2 separate regions of the Homo sapiens genome follow, and region 1 is linked to region 2. Evidence: fine-mapped expression QTL. Tissue or cell type: fibroblasts. Region 2 holds a variant in brackets; the other region holds the start of a gene. All regions are shown on one strand. Distances are from middle to middle.

Region 1 (8,104 bases), 290 kb after region 2:
TTCTGCTGATCTCACACTTTCCCATGAACAGGGGCTTCCTTTAAATGTCAGTGAGGTCAGTTTATCCTATAAATCAAGGGCAAACTCTCTCCAACTATGGCTCCAAGTAGCTCCAAATAAGACAAAACTGGGCTCTTGTAAACTTGCAGTCAGAAAACAAGAAGATGAGAAATCAGAGCCCTGCTTTAATTACTTAAAAAGATAATTGTGCCAATGTGGTGGCAACCAAGAAAGGCAGGAAGTAATTAAAGAAACTATTTCCCCCTTTCCTATTTAATTTTTCCTCTACACTTTTAAAACTTTAGGCTGAGAAATTAAGAAAGTGGACTATCTACACATTATTTAAATTCTGCATCTAGGTCATTCAGACTTTCTTTTCTCCCTACCAAGAAAAAAGTTAACGCCTTAAAAAAAAAAAAAAAAACTCAGTAAAAGAAAACAAACTCAGGTCTCCTGCGGAAGCCGGACTGGGCAGGAGGGCTCGGGGAATCCTTCTGACAAGGCAGAAAGGACGCTTAGGACTAGGCAAGGTCAGGGGTGAGAAAGGAAAGAAACAGTGGGGTGGCACTGCTTAAAACATGCAGGAACTAGATAGATATCCACTTGCATTCTCGGGGACCCGGGGACCCGGGGACCCCAAAGGAAAGTGGCAGGCTCAGGGAAAACTGAAAAGAACAGTAAAAGGACAGCATGGAATTGCCTGCATTTTATCTCCATCACTGCAGTGGCTGATGCCACTTCCCTTCCTAAGATATATACAGTGAAGTCTGTTAAGTTAGAAAGTGAATGGAGAGAGAAAGAGAGAGAGAGAGAATGTGAATATGACTTCGTCTGGGAATGAGTTACATGCAAGTTACTAGTAGTAACTTCGGGACCTCCATTTCCGAGGAAAATGAAGTGAAGCATAAGAACGAAACCAATTAGGTGACATTTGAACTTCCTGCCTGAGCAAATTTGGCCTGATTACCAGAATCGGAGAATACTTCAATTTCCAAGGCGTGCTGGACTCCTCCCGGCCAGACTTCTCCCGGCCGTAGTGATCCCCAAGCAAGCTGCTCTGCCCACAGCGGAGTCTGCAGCCGGCAGCCCCAAGCAGGCTCGGGCCTCCCGGGCTGCGCCCCAAGTCCAGCCCCGGCCGCACTCTCCAAGTGAGCAAGCCGGGCTGAGGCTGCCTCGGCGCGAGAGGCGGGGGAGGGTGGAAAATGCGAACCATGTGTTGGGGATGGGGGGATGTTATGGGTCTGGTAGTTTGAGATGAGGCAGAAGACTGTGTGTGGCAAGGAAACCAGGGGCATGAGTTTCAAGTTAATGAGATCAGAACACCCCCTAGGAAGACTCCTTACGTTTCCAAAGGAAAAAGCCTCAGGTGGTGGGAAAGACAGTGTCCCTGAGGCTGCAGATACTGGGACCTCCGCGAGAGTGCGGGGGCAGACGCTGCACATCCACACGCCCAGCCTCTGAGCCCCTACCTTGGTCGGTGATGGAGCGGATGCCCAGGATGTCGGTGACGGAGTGCGAGGAGGGCCAGGTGCGCGGCATGGCCACCGAACCGGGGATGGCAGGCACCCCGGGTGGCGTGGGCACCTTGGCGGCCGCCGCCGTGATAGGGCTGGGGTACGAGTAGATGTGGTTGTAGGGCAGCGCTGGCTGCGGCGTCGGCTGGTGCTGCTTGTATGAGTCGTAATGACCCTGCTGGGCCAAGTTGCCGATCTTGTTGCGCAGAATGCGGCTGATGGAGCTCACGGAGGGCACATTGTACTTGTCGCACACGCCGTCCGCCAGCAGGCGGTCCCGGATCTCCCAGGCGAAGATGCCGGGGTCTCTCTGCTTGTAGGTCCGGATGTGTTTCACCACGGTGGGGGTAGTGACCCGGGGCTTGCTGCCCCCGATGGCTCCTGGCAAGATCGAGCCCGTCTCGTTGTATCGCGCCAGGATCTTGCTGACGCAGCCGTGCGAGACCCGTAGCTGGCGGCTGATGTCACACGGTCGGATGCCCAGTTGGGCCAGTTCCACGATGCGAAGCCGGATGGCGTTGGGCAGCGGCCTCCCGTTCACGAACACTCCTCCCAGCTGGTTCACCTCCCCGAAGGCTGGCTCTGCAAAATGAACACACAGCGCGCAGGGACGCGCACCCGCTGCTTGGGACAGCTGCCTGCCACTGGGCCTCCCTACGCATCCGGGGACTGGGCGAACGCACCCGTCCCCTACTAACTACTGGGGCTGTCCCCAAACCATATGGTCCCTGAACATAGCCGAACGGCCCCAAACCGTCACTGTCCAATCGGACCCCCTCCCTCATTCCTGCCGTGCCGGAGGCCCCTACGGCCAAGTAAAGTGGTGAGATGCCGGGCCTCTCCGAGCGTTCAAAAGTCTCCCGAAGCAGGGGGAGAAATCGGTCTTGACGCCTGAACGTGCTCCTTCTCGCCTGCTCCTCACTAAAGTCCTTGAGCCGCTCCCTCTCTCCACCCATCCCATCCCCAGCGTTCCTTCTGGAGACCCGGCCAGTTAAACAAAGTCTAGGGGAAGCTAGAGGGTGTTTTATTTGTTGTTGTTTGTTTTCTTTTCTTTTCTTTTCCTGTTTTGTTTGCATGTGTGCGCGCGTGTGAAACAAAACTTGGTTTGCTACTCGGGCTGAGGGGCTCGCTGATGCCACAGCTCCCTTCTCTTAAAATCAGAAAATGGCATCAACAGCCACCCAGTAGCCAGCGTTCACATTGAACTGCTGTGCGCCGCTGACCCTTAGCGTGTTCCTACAACTTGTAGGAACACGAGCAAAGTCAATAGAGAATGTGAGCGCCTAGTGGCGCGCGCCCTCGCGCTCCCTCCCTCCCTCCCTCCCTTGCCCGCTCGCTCCCTCCCTCCCTTCCCGGCTCTGACAGAGTCCCCCGCCGCCACTCACCCATTGCTCCGAGCAGTACACCAACCCGGCCCCAGTTCCGCACTCCCAGACAGAAACTTTCCGCACCGCCTCAGTGGCCCGGCCTGTTGCTATCCCGGCCGACCGCCGGCGCCTCCGCTTCTTCCCAGGAGGAGGAGGCGAGAGGGCAAAAGGAAGAAGTAAAAGGAAGTCTGTGCCCCGATGAAAGAGGCTTGAGTTCTGCATTTCAATCTAAGCAGCAACGTGGGCTGGGCTGAGCAGGGCAGGGCGGCTCCGTCTATCACTCACTGGGGACACGCCCTAAAAGGGGCGGGTCCGAGGGCAAGCTGCATGGTGATTGGTGCGGGTCGGTGAGCGACAGCGCAGTCCAGGAAACTCCTTCCGCTGTCTCTTTCAGGCTAGCTCCCCACCTGGGTGACTAAATACAATGAAAATGGGTGTTTGACATCTTCCCAGAAGCGGCACAAAAAGACAGCAAAATCAGGCTGGTAAAATGCTGAATAAACAAATGAAAGCGTTTGGTCTGAATGTGAATGACTCGAAGGGAGAAGGGGCCCGAGGAGACCTCCTCCGGGGAACGATGGACATCTCAGAATTGAAGTTAAGGCTATAGGTGGGAGGCGGGCGCCACCGTGCACAGGGGTGAGGGAGTTGTCTTAGCAAAATCTGTCATGCGGGCCTCTGGGGACTGTCAGGAGAGGATCTGTGTCACCTGCCGATTCTACCTCACTTCAGTCCATGCCAGGTGGCGAGAGCGCAGGTGTGAGAAGATAGGCCGGCCAAAGAAACCAGGAGGTTGCGGGGAGCCCGAGCCACAGGTGGGGGCCACTGTTAAGGCCAGGGAGGTTCCTCCTACCGCCAGCTTCCTGCGGCGACCCCCCAGTCCAGGTGGACCGGCCAACCACTAGCCACACAGGCTCGAGGCACGGGCCACGCCGTGTGCGGGGAACTGAACCACAGGCGGCTAACGCTAGCGCACAGCCCCAAGTCGACCAATTGCCAGTGCGTGGGGCACTCACTACGGAGCCCAAGGCTCTGCCACATTCAGCCACTGTCCTGGGCCCCTGGCCCTCGGTGGCAGCGTTTGTGAGGGTTCTCCAAACCAGCGAGCCCTCTCGAAAGAGTTTTGTTTAAATATGAAAGAGACTTAGTCCCAAGACAGTGGACACCGACGCTGCACATGGATGTAATTCCCTCGTCTTCCATTAAGCTCCAGAGGCCCTGTCGTTCTGCCTACTTCTGAATTTTCACTTTTATTCACTGTAAGTCTAATCTAAAGTGTACCGTATGCTTTTTTGCAGCCAAAGTTATTAATATTTGCAGTTAGGGTTGTGGAGAATGTGAATCAAAATAATAAACAAGAAGAGAAATATTTTCGTGAATTTGGGAGTTTGTACTGCTTGGGGTCGTGAACTCTGTTACTGCTACTTGACAATCCAGAAGGCTCCTTGTGCACACAGGATTCAGGCTGCTTCCCCAACAGTCCCCAGGGATGTGTGTGGCTGCGGTCTACACCCAGAGAAGCTGACTGGTCCCAGATCTCAGGTCAGTAAGTTGCAAGAACCCAGGAAAAAACTATGATCAGCCATGCTTCTGCAAAGGAACAGATCTCCAGATTCCCACTTCTATGGTTAGGATGCACTCTAAATTCAAAATTACCTAACAGAATGGAGGATGTGAAAGGTAAAGATGAACTAAAACACCACTCTTTAGAATCGGAATCTTGGGGGAAATCCCACAACTAGACATACTTGAACTTGTCCCTTTTTGTTGGTTGGTTTCAAATGTTTAAAATCTTCTTGAAGTTTGACTTGATAGCAATTTCAGCCTGGTCTGACCTCCAATACCTGTTGGGTGACATCGTGTGGCACCGCCTGGCATTTTTACACAAGGAGAGCCTTCGGAAATCTAAAGATTTTAGAAGCAGCAGCTCCTTCTTAAGGCTGGTAGATAAATTAGTTGAGACTTTGCCGCATCGTAGGGGAGCTTATGACTCTGCCTTAGGCTTGCGGGAGGGAATGAACATGCCCGGCAACTTGACCAGGAAGGAATCCTCCTCCCCCCTCACAGACAGGCAGTGAGTATCGACCTCTGCGCCAAATCTGCTCTACTTCCGTGCACCCAGGGAAAATTTGCAGTCTGCAGGGCTGCTAGGCGGGTACAAGGATGTTCGCATACGAACAGGCAAGACCTCATGTCCCGCGGGGGGTCTGGGGACTCTGCGAGAGCTTTAGCAGTTCTGCAGCACCAGCCTAGACTGGTTCAGAAACTGATATGGTTTAGAGCTCTGGTTATATGGAGGTAACATACAACTCCCTCTTGTTCCTACCAACTCCTTCAGCTGCCACACATCTTCCCAGTTCTCACATAGGTTCAATGCCATCTCTCCCTTTCCACCTGCTGAACTTGGCTGTGACCATGTGGCCTCAGCTGCTGCGGATCCCCTGGGCGTGCCAGGGGTAGCAACTCAGTGGGCAGGGGGCCTGTCCGCAGCTCTGGCGGCTCCCCGCAGGCCCCACTCATGCCGGCGGTTGCAGGTACTGGGTGCTCTTGGCATTCTCAAGAGCGCAGGAAGAGTCAATTTTAGGTGTTTTGGGCCACTAAGTATCCGCGGCAAGCCGAAGACCCCGCTCTGGGAGCAAGAGAAGCCGAAGCTGCAGACAGGGTCAGCGGGATCCCAGCAGAAGAGGGTGATGCTGAAGCCTTCCCGGGGCGCGGACCGAGTGCTAGGGCGAGGTAGTCAGCGACCCGCTGAGACCGACCGAGAGACGACGGATCTGAGGCAGAGAAAGAGGATGAAGGAAGGAAAAGAGAGAACACTAAGGTCTGGTCAGTCCCGATGAATGTAAGGATGCAGGACCTAGAACAAGAACAAGGGTCAGCTGGAGTCTGCCGCCTGGTTACACTGCTCACTCTGGACTCAGAAGATCTCAAAGAGATCGGAAGAATTTCGACTAAAAGGAGAAATTTAAGACCAAAACCAAAACACCAGTAAGGCCTGCAGCTGGCTCAGGCCAGGGAGAAGCCAAAAAGCCTTTCCCTAGCCGCGTCGAGGCCTCCTCCGAGGGGCGACTCGCTCTCTGGATAAATATTTACTCAGTGGGAGACTGGAAGCCGGGCCGAGAGTGTGAAGGAGGGGGCTACACTGGGTGGGAGGAACCAGTACACTCGGCGCTGGCCGGATCCTTGTGTACACCCGCCCAAGGGGAGCAGGGGCCGGGGACTCTGGGGGCGACTCGGCCCAGGCGTGTGGCTGGGGAAGCTTTAGACCCCAGCATCGGATCGACCGGACTCCGCCCTGCCCTCGCGGACCCCAGCCAGATGCTGTGAAGTCTCCATAAATCTGTCAGCCGTCCCAGTGCCGCGGGCAGTCACCTGCGGCGCCCCCTTCCCGGCGCTAGAGCGGCCCGCGGAGAGACGCGGAGAAGCAACGGGAATCTAGCCCGGCAGACTGTACCCGAGGGCTGCCGAAGTCAGACCCAAGCACTACAGGTTGTGCGGAACGCGAGGACCCCTCCCTGTATCCCCAACCTGGACCGACCCCCGGAAGCCTGCTCCTCCGGGTCTACAGGTCAGTGATGACTGTGGATGGGAGGATAGGGCGAGAGTTGGGGGTGCGTATGCACGGGAGAGAGGTTGTTCTATTCCGAGTTGCAGTTATGACAAGCAGAGCTAGCAGAAAATATTAAGGAGCTGATTCCTCCAACTTGCCCCCTGCTGGGGACAGGACCCCCCCCCCCCAAGCGAGGCCCAGGCGACGGTGCCCGCCTCTTGTCCACTCGGAGGAGTTGCAGGGATTGTAAGACAGCCAGAGTCCGAGGTCCGGGACTGGGATTTTCATAGTGCATTGACTTCTAGCCGTCTGGGGGCAAATGCAGTAAAGGCAAGACCCTTCAGGGTCAGTTGGGGCATTGCGCGCGGTGCAGAGAGAAAAACAAGCCCAGCTTCTCCAGAACTCGGCCCTCTGCTATGTCCCCGTCTTGCAGGGTAAGCGGCCAGCTGAGTTTCCCTGAAACTGCAGCGGCAAGTGACAGCCAGAAGCTCGCCCCGCGCCCAGGGCGAGGGAGGGTCCGCCCTGGACCGCTGGCCCCTGCAGGATCTGCGCTGCGGGAGGGGATGGCGGCTAAAAGGAGCAGTCGCGGGGATTGGGGATGGAGACAGCCCTCAGGGGTCCTCTGGTGGGAGAGGAGGACAGGAGGCGCCCGCACACTGACCTGCGGCCTGGACTTGGAGGGACTGCGGACGCGCTAGCCCAAGGAGAAGCCGCAAGCGCACGGAGAGGAGCAGAGCTCGGCCGGAAGATGCTCGGAGAATAGCCCGGCAGCCTCTCCACCTTCTCATCAAGGAGCCTCACGGTTCAAGAGTCTCTCCGCGGCTCCACTAGGTAGCTAGAATGGCAGCGGGTTGGGTCGGGCCCGAGCTCGGAAATGCGTCCCGGCGTTCTGCGGTCCGACAGCGACACGACCGGAGCCCTGCGGGAGGTGGGATCAGCCCCACGGGCTGCGAGCGCTCGTCGCCCGCTTTCTCCTTGCGAGAGCAGGGGAGGGGCCTGTTGCTGTCTGAAACCCGCTTTTAATTCTCCGCCTGCCTGTTTCCGATCACCCGGGGTTGGTTTTTCTGTTTGCTCACTCCTTCTATTACAATAAAAACAATCGACATTTCTTTTCAGTTTCCCCATATTAGCGTCACTCAGTAATTGTTCCCCACCCCCCCTTACCCCACGCGTTGAAGGCGAGCGGGATTGCTGGTATTCGCGCATTTGGAAGTTTTCCGAGCATATAAGCAAATCTTTCCTAAAGACTTTAAAGTAAAAATAAATAACGGCCCGAGAAATTGCCGTGACCCTAACATTACTTTCTGAAAGCAAATTACACCCATTTTTCAGTTTTCAACAGCGGAATTGCTTTCAGAAGGACAGTGTGGAGCTCCATGTGATATGGTTACGTTTGTTTATTAAATCTGCAAATGAAAGAGAACATGTTTTAATGCACGGGGCAAAACTCCGGGCTGCGGGATTGCAAGAGCGAACAAGGATCGGATCCCAACAGAGGAAGGGGGGAGCGGCCTAGGGGTAGGGAGGGGTAGGGAGGGGCAGGAAGGTCCCTGAGGGGAGGCTGGGCTGATCTAGCCAGAGGGAGGGGGATTTCGTCTTGCCAGGGTTGCAGCATTAGCAGAAGTTGCGCAGCTTCGTGAGGAGGACGCAGTCCGTGGTCACTATACAGCCAT
Region 2 (8,104 bases):
ATGAATATCATTATAAGAACAAGTTGCGTATAAATAAAACTATTTTCACGACCTGGCCAGAAGCCTATTCTAATGCTAATTATTAAGTGGACATAGTGAGTTACATTGAAAGGGAAATCATGTAGCATCCACTTTTTTCTCATCAAAAATATTGCTGTTTCAATGCACTATTTACACCAGCGGCTGCATTTGAAATCCTCATCAGTCAAATTTTGTTTAGGCAATGTGATTGATTTCTCAAATGTGGGGATTTTATGTCATTTTCATTGCAGTTGATGAAAGATGCTTTCTAACTTGGTGCTTGTCTGAGGAGAGGACTGTAAAGTCATAGAACTGTGAAGCAGAAAGGATCTATGGGGATCAACTGAGGTACCCCGTCCTACTCCCAACCCACTTATGTTATAGATGAGGACACTGAGATCCAGAGAGCTGAATTTCCTTATCCAAAGTCACACAGCACATTAATGGGCAAGCCAGGACTGGAACTCAGGGTTCCAGCTGCATTCAGCCTGTTTCACCCTAGCATCAGCTCTGAACGCTTTTCCCAGGCATCCCAGTGAATGCTGATTAAGGCCGCTCTTCCTCCCTAGGGTCTTCCTGGGTTTGCATTGCCCCTTCCTTGAGTCTCTGGATCTTTGCTAGCAGCTGCACCAGGCCCAGGAATGAGAGAGAAATGGGAAGTGGAGGAAAGAAGGGCAGGGGGAAAATGACTTTGGAAGAGTAACCTGTGTCTCTAAAGTAATGAGGTGGACTTTCTTTTGTGACCCACAACATTTCTATGATGCTCATAGACAAGAACCAAATACACTTTGGCAACAAATAGCATCGTTAGAATCTGCAATCAGCTTTTCAGTGTTGTGCCATTGAAAAACAATATGCATTTGGACGAAAAGCTCTGGTTTTATTCATTTCTGTGCATATAGATAGATGAATTTGAAGTACCTAGGAATTTTGGGCTTTTTTGAATTATTTGTACATACTTCTTTATCATCATGGCCAATCCACATGACATGATGTATAAATGAATGTATCTCTTTTTGTCATACTGAAACATAATTGCTAGATGATAAAACATTTAGCACAAACATTTCATAAAATCAAATTTCAGTTCTGTTTTTTTTCCTTCAGCTTTGATGGATATCCCCATTATTCGTAAGTTAATTCTGCAGAGATTCTTAGAGGAACTGATAAATATTGATAAAAGTGGTTTGAAGTTCCATGTATCTAAAAATGAACCTAATCTCTCTCCAGCTATTTAAAGTAGATATGTGATAAATACTCTCTTTGTCAAAAAAAATAAACGAATGAATGAATGAGCAAATGCTAGGGAGCTAAGAATGGCTGATTAAATTAACAGAGATTGGGCTGCTTTTTAGAAAAAACATTCCACCACATTGGCCTGATGTTATTTGGTATACACAGTAAGGTACAGTATGCATTACTAACCTCATTAAGTTCCAAATAAAACTCTATACTTTACACCATTTCTACGAGAGGTTTTATTAGATTTCCTTAACTGGTGTCATGTTTTTTGGTCAGGGCATTTTTAACCAGCTTCACATAAATAAAGTTCTATTTTGTCACCATGTCATAGTAAAATAAACTGCGTGTACTATGCATCTCTGCCAAAGCCAGAGCAGACGGGGAAAGGATATAAATGTGTCAGTATTCGGGGAGAGAAAACACATAAATGCACATGGCGACTCTCTTAACTCCGAGGCTCAGCGTGATGCTAATTCATTTGGGTGACATTTAGAAAGCTACTCCCAACATAAATAATACGTATATAGTGGGGGGTATCTCTGACAGACACAAAGTTGAAAAAAATGGCCTGAAAGAATGCACATCAGATTTTACAGGTGCTCAGAACATTAATGTACAGTGATGGATGACCTACTTGCTGAAGGTTGACATAATGTTGAATGGAATGTTTTGTTTATATCTGGTACCAAGTTTATTGACCAGCACCAAAGGGTAGGACCAAGCTGGGATTTGAACAGTCCCTACTTTTTGTATGTGTATGTGTGGAAACTGTTTTCTATGTCCCACCTCCTCACAGGCAACAGTTCTTAAGTTGTTTCACAGATATCATTCCACAAGATGAATTACTCTCTTCAATGAAAAAACAAAAAACAAAAAAAAACAACCTTAGGCCTATGTATTCCTTACCAGAGGTGCAAATCTTGATGTGTAGATGTGAAAAATCAAGAGAGGGGCTTTTACCACATTTATCATACATCTTTAATCTTGGTTTGTCATCTCTAATGTGCCTGCAGTTAAAATCTTCATGACTAATGGTGAGTTGCTACTAGCAGTGCCTGTGGCTAAAAAAAAATCAGAAAATCCAGAAATATAAGAGACCAACAAGTCAAGTAGGCCATCTAAATGACAGGATAGACTTGTCCCCAAGTGTCCTTTCCAGTATGAATAAAAAGAGTTATAACAAAAAATAGGAAAACTTTTGGTATCAGTCCAAGTGATAATTTTCTTTCATTACTAAGTGGGAAATTATCACAGTACAAAAGTAATCCTTTGGGAAAATCTTCCAAGTACTTAGCATAAATTCTTTCTTTCATAATGTCAGCCATTATACCTAGTTATTATAACCTCTTGAGCAATGGAGTGCATTCTTCTTTTTTGATGATTATACCATTCAAGTGAATTTTACCATGTCCATCTTTAGTTATTTTTAGTTTGTTTGCCCATTCATTCTTTCATTTACTCACCCACTTAACAAGCATTTATTGAATGTCTACACTAGGCCAGGTTTTGAGGAAGGTACAAAGACACATCAGACAGATAACTTTCAGATGGCTTCAAAAGTAGAGTGGAGAAAAAACATGCAAAAACTCCCCAAATATGAAGTAGAAAGTGGCTCATGTCCTTAGAAAGTTATATATAGGGTTGGGAGGTACATATGCAGAAGTAATCATTGGTTCTAGCTGGATGGCTCTGGCTAAACATCCTAGGAGTGGCAATATTTGAGCTGGGCCTTAAAGGATGCCTAGAATTTGTGCCTCCCTTAAATAGGTGGAAGTAGAGGGAAGTCATTGCAGGTACAAAGAAAATGAAGAAAGGTAGAGGAAGGAAAGGAAAGGACAAGTGGAGGAATCAGAAAATAATGGAATGGCTCAATCGAGCTAGTTAACATTTGCATTAGCCCACATATTTATCATTTTTTTGTGTGGTGACAATACTTAAAATCTACTCTCGTAGCGATTTTGAAAATACAATACATTGTTATTTACTATAGTTACCATGCTGAACAATAGATCTGGACTATTTCAGAACATCATATTATACATGATACATATATATGAATTTTATGTGTCAATTAAAAATATAATTCCAATTAAATATATATTATTTCTTATATATATATATGTATGTATGTGTTTTCCTTATAAAGAAAATAATGGAAACCTAAGTTGGGGTCAGATCAGCAAGGACGTTGGGAAGTCAAGCTAGAGATTTCAGGCCTTCCTCTGTAGTTAGTAAGGAGAAATGGAAAGTCTTTAGCAGACGAGGATTATGCTAAGGAGGACTTCTCTAGGATGGGGGGAGGATAAAGACAACAAAGGTGGAGAGGCCAGTTGGGAGGTCCTGATGAGAGGGAGAGAATTCCGTAAAAGGGTGTGGAGAAGAAACATGAGGCAGAAATTACAAAGGACAATCAGAGACATTTTTTACTGGGGATGATGCATCAAGATTGACTTTCAGGTTTCAGCTGAGTGACTATGATAATTAATAAAAATGAGAGCAGGTTTAGAAGAGATGGGACGATCAGTTTGGTTGTGGCCACCAGTATGATAGTCTGGTTCTACAGAATCATGTTGTATTCACCTTTGACTCTCCAGTTTCTAATACATTGTAGATGTCAAATAAAGTCAGAATGTTATTGAAAAAACTAATTATTCCATGTGAAGATGTCCAGTAGGCAGTTGGAAAACCAAGCTATTTACAATTTTTTTCCCTTCAGAGTGTCTGGCACATAATATACACTTAAGCATGTATTAAATATCTAATAAATTTAATATTTCTTAACCACAAGAGTGTCTAAAATGCCTATGTGGTAAGTATTTTTGAAGAAATTCCTCTATTGTGATGATAATTTCCGAAGTGACAGATTTATACTCTGTCTTTCCAATTAATAGCAAATGTAGTATTTGAAATACTGTTTATGGTCTTATGCTGAAAAAATTTTTATGTTGAAAAACTTTGTGCCAAAATGAGTTTCTGCCAGTAAGGAACACTAACTTTTAGCCATTTGTTTGCGATATGAAATAAAGAAAATTATCTAAGAATTTTTACCTCTGTTCATTTTGTCATCTACTGAATGTTAACCTACATTGTGCAGGGATTCATATTTTTTTCAGTTTTGAGCTAACCACTTATAAACTTCACAATCGTGTTTTGTTCTGTTTTGACTTTTTCTTTGTATTTTGTATTTCTGACTATATATGCTATCTATATGACTATATAGTGAGATGTATGACTAAATTTTATTAATATCATCTGTTTATGCCATCTTTATGTTATAAACAATGTGAATCTTTTGGGCTACATAGAAAAATATTAGTATGAGCTTTGTTATTTAGCTCAGCCTGCCATTTACACAAAGCAGCCCAAAAATATCTTGCTATATTTATATGAAATTCAAAAGTTGATGATTAAGAAACATTTTAAAGTTCAAGCACATTGCTGATTAGTAATAGCTTATAGTACATCTTGTTATCGTTAACTAAATATTTTCTGATATTCAACCCTTGATAACCAAAAGCAGTGTTTAGACATGGACCATAATACAGGCAATTGATACCTCAAAACTAAATAGATAGAGGCAGAGGTAGAATAGCAAAATGATAAAAATCAAATTCCACAACACCACTGAAGGATCCAGAGAACACTGGATAGCCACAGCTTGATGATAGATGAGTAACCAGATCTAAATGCTCTGTAAATAGCCCGTCATTTGAGAGAAGTCTTCTTGAATATCCCGTTCTTCATTCCTGAAACATGACAACTTGGGAACCAAACCCAAGCTACAGA[A/G]GGTGTAGTCTTTTTGCCCAAGGCCACACCCTTGCTGACTGGATAAAAATGGGACCCTTGTATTTGGGGATTTATTGTCACAACGCTAAGGAATCACTGTTTTTGTTTTGTCTTGTTTTTACCCTTAGTTATTTTATCATGGCATTCCCAAGAATTGTCAGTTTAAACCCCAAGGATCTGGAAAATGGTGGGACTTTTTTTAAGTCTAGACTTATTCGGTCTACAGTTTGTTTCTAATACAATGTCATTTGTCCTTGCTCAGGATGAGACTCCTACATTTAGTGACCATTTACATGTGATAGTATAGTAATAAAATTAAGAAAAGAATTCTACCTTTTAAGAAACTTATCAACAGAAACAATAGACATGTAAATATAAGAATCTTTAAGAACAAGAAATAATAAATGACTTCCTCCCCACAAATTGAAATTGACAATGTAGATATTTAAGCAGGAAATAGAATTTACATATAAATTTCTATTTGTTTCTATTTCCTGCTTAAATATCTACATTGCCAAAAACCAAAGGAAAGAAGACAATCATTTATTTATTCTACTCTGATTCTTTCTTTTTTCTTTCTTTCTTTTCTTTTTGAGATGGAATCTTGCTCTATTGCCCAGGCTGGAGTGCAGTGGCGCAATCTCGGCTCACTGCACCTCCACCTCCTAGGCTCAGGTGATTCTCCTGCCTCAGCCTGTGAGTAGCTGGGATTACAGGCACGCACCACCATGCCCAGTTAATTTTGTATTTTTAGTAGAGATGGGGTTTCATCATGTTGGCCAGGCTGGTCTTGAACTTCTGACCTAAGTGATCTGCCCTCCTTGGCCTCCCAAAGTGCTGGGATTACAGGCATGAGCCACTGCACCCTGCCTGATTCTCTTTTATTGGCCCAAGTTTACTCTGCTTTCATTGTACCTGAAGCAAGACTACCTGAAGCATGGGCAAAAATGAAGTCATTGCAGGAGTCCTCTACTTGTAGTATATGTAACCAGCGAATCATTTTGTGGGCTTTCAGAATGCAGGGTCTTAGCAGTTGTGATCTCTGGATAACCTAGAAGCCTGTATTAGAAGCTCTGAATTGATTCTGTGTTGTTTGTGTGTAGAATTGTGCAATATTTCCACCAGCCAGGCCTAGACTGGATCATCTTAATAGTTATTGAATTGCTTTAGTACTATTATTTTAAATTATTTGTTGATGCTTTTGCAAAACAATTCTTTGCAAAAAAAAAATGCATACCTTGCACAAATATTTAGACATAAGGACTTTGTTGAATGGACGTGTCTGTGGATAAGAGAGGCCCTATTTGTTTTATTTGCTCCAGCAACATGGCTAGAATAATCAAGGTCTGTTCATTGGTTTGTAAGGGGTTTGGCTTTGAGATGCAGAGAGTTCAATAATTTAGAGACAGTGCTGTGGAAAAAATAGTGGAAATAATATAACTAGTCAGCAATCCCTGCATTTCCTGTTTATTATTATTTTTTAACATTCTCTTTCTATTTTAAGGTATTATGTTGCTTGAATCCTCTTTCTAAACAGAATTGATTGCTTTAAAGTAGGCTATTTGGTTATAGTTTTTTTTTTTTTTTTGTAATGGCAGTAGAGAAGGCAAACTATTGTTAAACTATTGCTCTTTTTGTGTATTTTTAAAGAAGTAGTGAGTAGTTTTTGGTTAGTGGTTTAGTTACCAAAACATTGTCTCTGAAACAGATAGAGAAGACTGCCTCTAGGGTATATGACAGATGGGGTTGACTTCAGGTTGCTTTGTTTTTCTTCTGGAGAGTTAGGGGGCAGAGAGGGCTCACTGTGGTTCCTGCAGCCATTGCTGAGGAAATGGAGGGTGTAGAGCCTTGAGCTCCTGGAGAGCAGTTGTGGAGGGGAGCCTAGAATATGCATTCCTTGCTGCAATTCCAGGTTTTTCCAGAAAATGAGAGAGAGGTAAGAGGTCCAGCTGGCTCATTTCTTCAGCTAGGTATTTGCAAAACAAATAATTTGAGTATTCCCGTGCAATAAGAATGTCAGTTGGATGTTAGGTTGTGGGGAAACAAGCTGCTGACTCTGTATCAAGTAATTGATTAGCTTCATACAAGAAACTTACTCAGTATTTCCCACACTGCCCTTGAACTAGAATGCAAATTCCCAGTAGCCAGGGGCTATGTCTGTTCACCGTTTGCATCTCCTAAACATAATAGGAATTGTGAATTCATTTGCTAGGGCTGCCATAACAATATACCACAGACTGGGTGGCTTAAATAACAGAAATTTATTTTCTCTTAGTTCTAGAGGCCAAAAATCCAGGATCAAGGTGCCGGCAGGTTGGTTGCTGGTGGGACCTTTCTTCCTGGCTTGCAGATGGCAACTTTCTTGCTATGTTCTCATGTGACCTTCAGGAAGAAATATATCTTCGGTATTTCTTCCTCTTCTTATAAAGATATTAGTCCTATTGGATGAAGGTCCTTCTTACGACCCCATTTAATCTTAATTACCACCTTAACAGCCCTATCTCCAAATGTAGTCACATTAGGATTAGGATTTTAACCTATGAATTGGGGGGCACAGTTCAATCCATAACAAGCTAATCAAAGTTTATTGGATAAATAATGAACAAAATCATGGGTGTTATTCAGAAATAATATAAATGTGAAAGGTGACATGTGGTTTTATAAAGGTACCTTGCGACAAATTACATGGTTCAAGGTTTCCCAAAATATGTTCTATGGAATACTAGTCTCCTAAGATGCTCTGTCAGAACAGCATTTACAGTATTTAAATAGATTTGGAGAACTCTGCATACTACATCCCCTTCTTGGAGAGTCAGACTGTACATTACCGTTATAAAGTCTCTGATATGTACTTTGGAAAAGAATACTGTTTAATTGTATTTAACCCAGAGTTTTCTTGTACATGTTGGATGCAGAATGTGTCCAGAGCCCCTTCCCCCACCTTTTTGAAGAAACCCATTGTTGTCTATTTGCCTGCTTTGAAAAATGCTTCAACCCATACTGAAGGCTAAAAGTCTCAGAGTTGAGAAAAGCATCTCCTGTTTCCTCTGTTTTC

Alleles and levels. Alleles are on the strand shown, and positions count from the first base shown. SD is a standard deviation of normalised expression in the study named.
As copies of A replace G in region 2, the expression in fibroblasts of the gene that starts at base 3,133 in region 1 goes down (small effect, 0.38 SD a copy in GTEx).

Evidence for each region. PIP is the estimated chance that this variant, and not a neighbour inherited with it, causes the effect.
Region 1: PAX9 starts here. The variant in region 2 is fine-mapped to the expression of PAX9 in fibroblasts (GTEx, PIP 0.90).

What each region holds. Positions count from the first base shown.
Region 1 is chr14:36,656,889-36,664,992 of GRCh38, reverse strand. PAX9 (paired box 9) reads right to left here and starts at 3,133. Exons shown (of 4, transcript NM_001372076.1): 1 at 2,900-3,133; 2 at 1,470-2,096. The coding sequence starts at 2,903. It overlaps LOC105370455 (a long non-coding RNA gene), which reads left to right and starts at 6,244. Exons shown (of 2, transcript XR_943758.3): 1 at 6,244-6,449. RefSeq lists enhancers at 1,133-1,643, 1,644-2,153, 2,154-2,665, 8,096-8,104, a cis regulatory region at 3,430-3,942 and a promoter at 3,202-4,399.
Region 2 is chr14:36,949,769-36,957,872 of GRCh38, reverse strand. All of the region lies in intron 1 of SLC25A21 (solute carrier family 25 member 21), which reads left to right. MIR4503 (microRNA 4503) reads left to right here and starts at 5,482; the gene lies at 5,482-5,564. The variant A/G (reference allele first, on the strand shown) is at 5,050.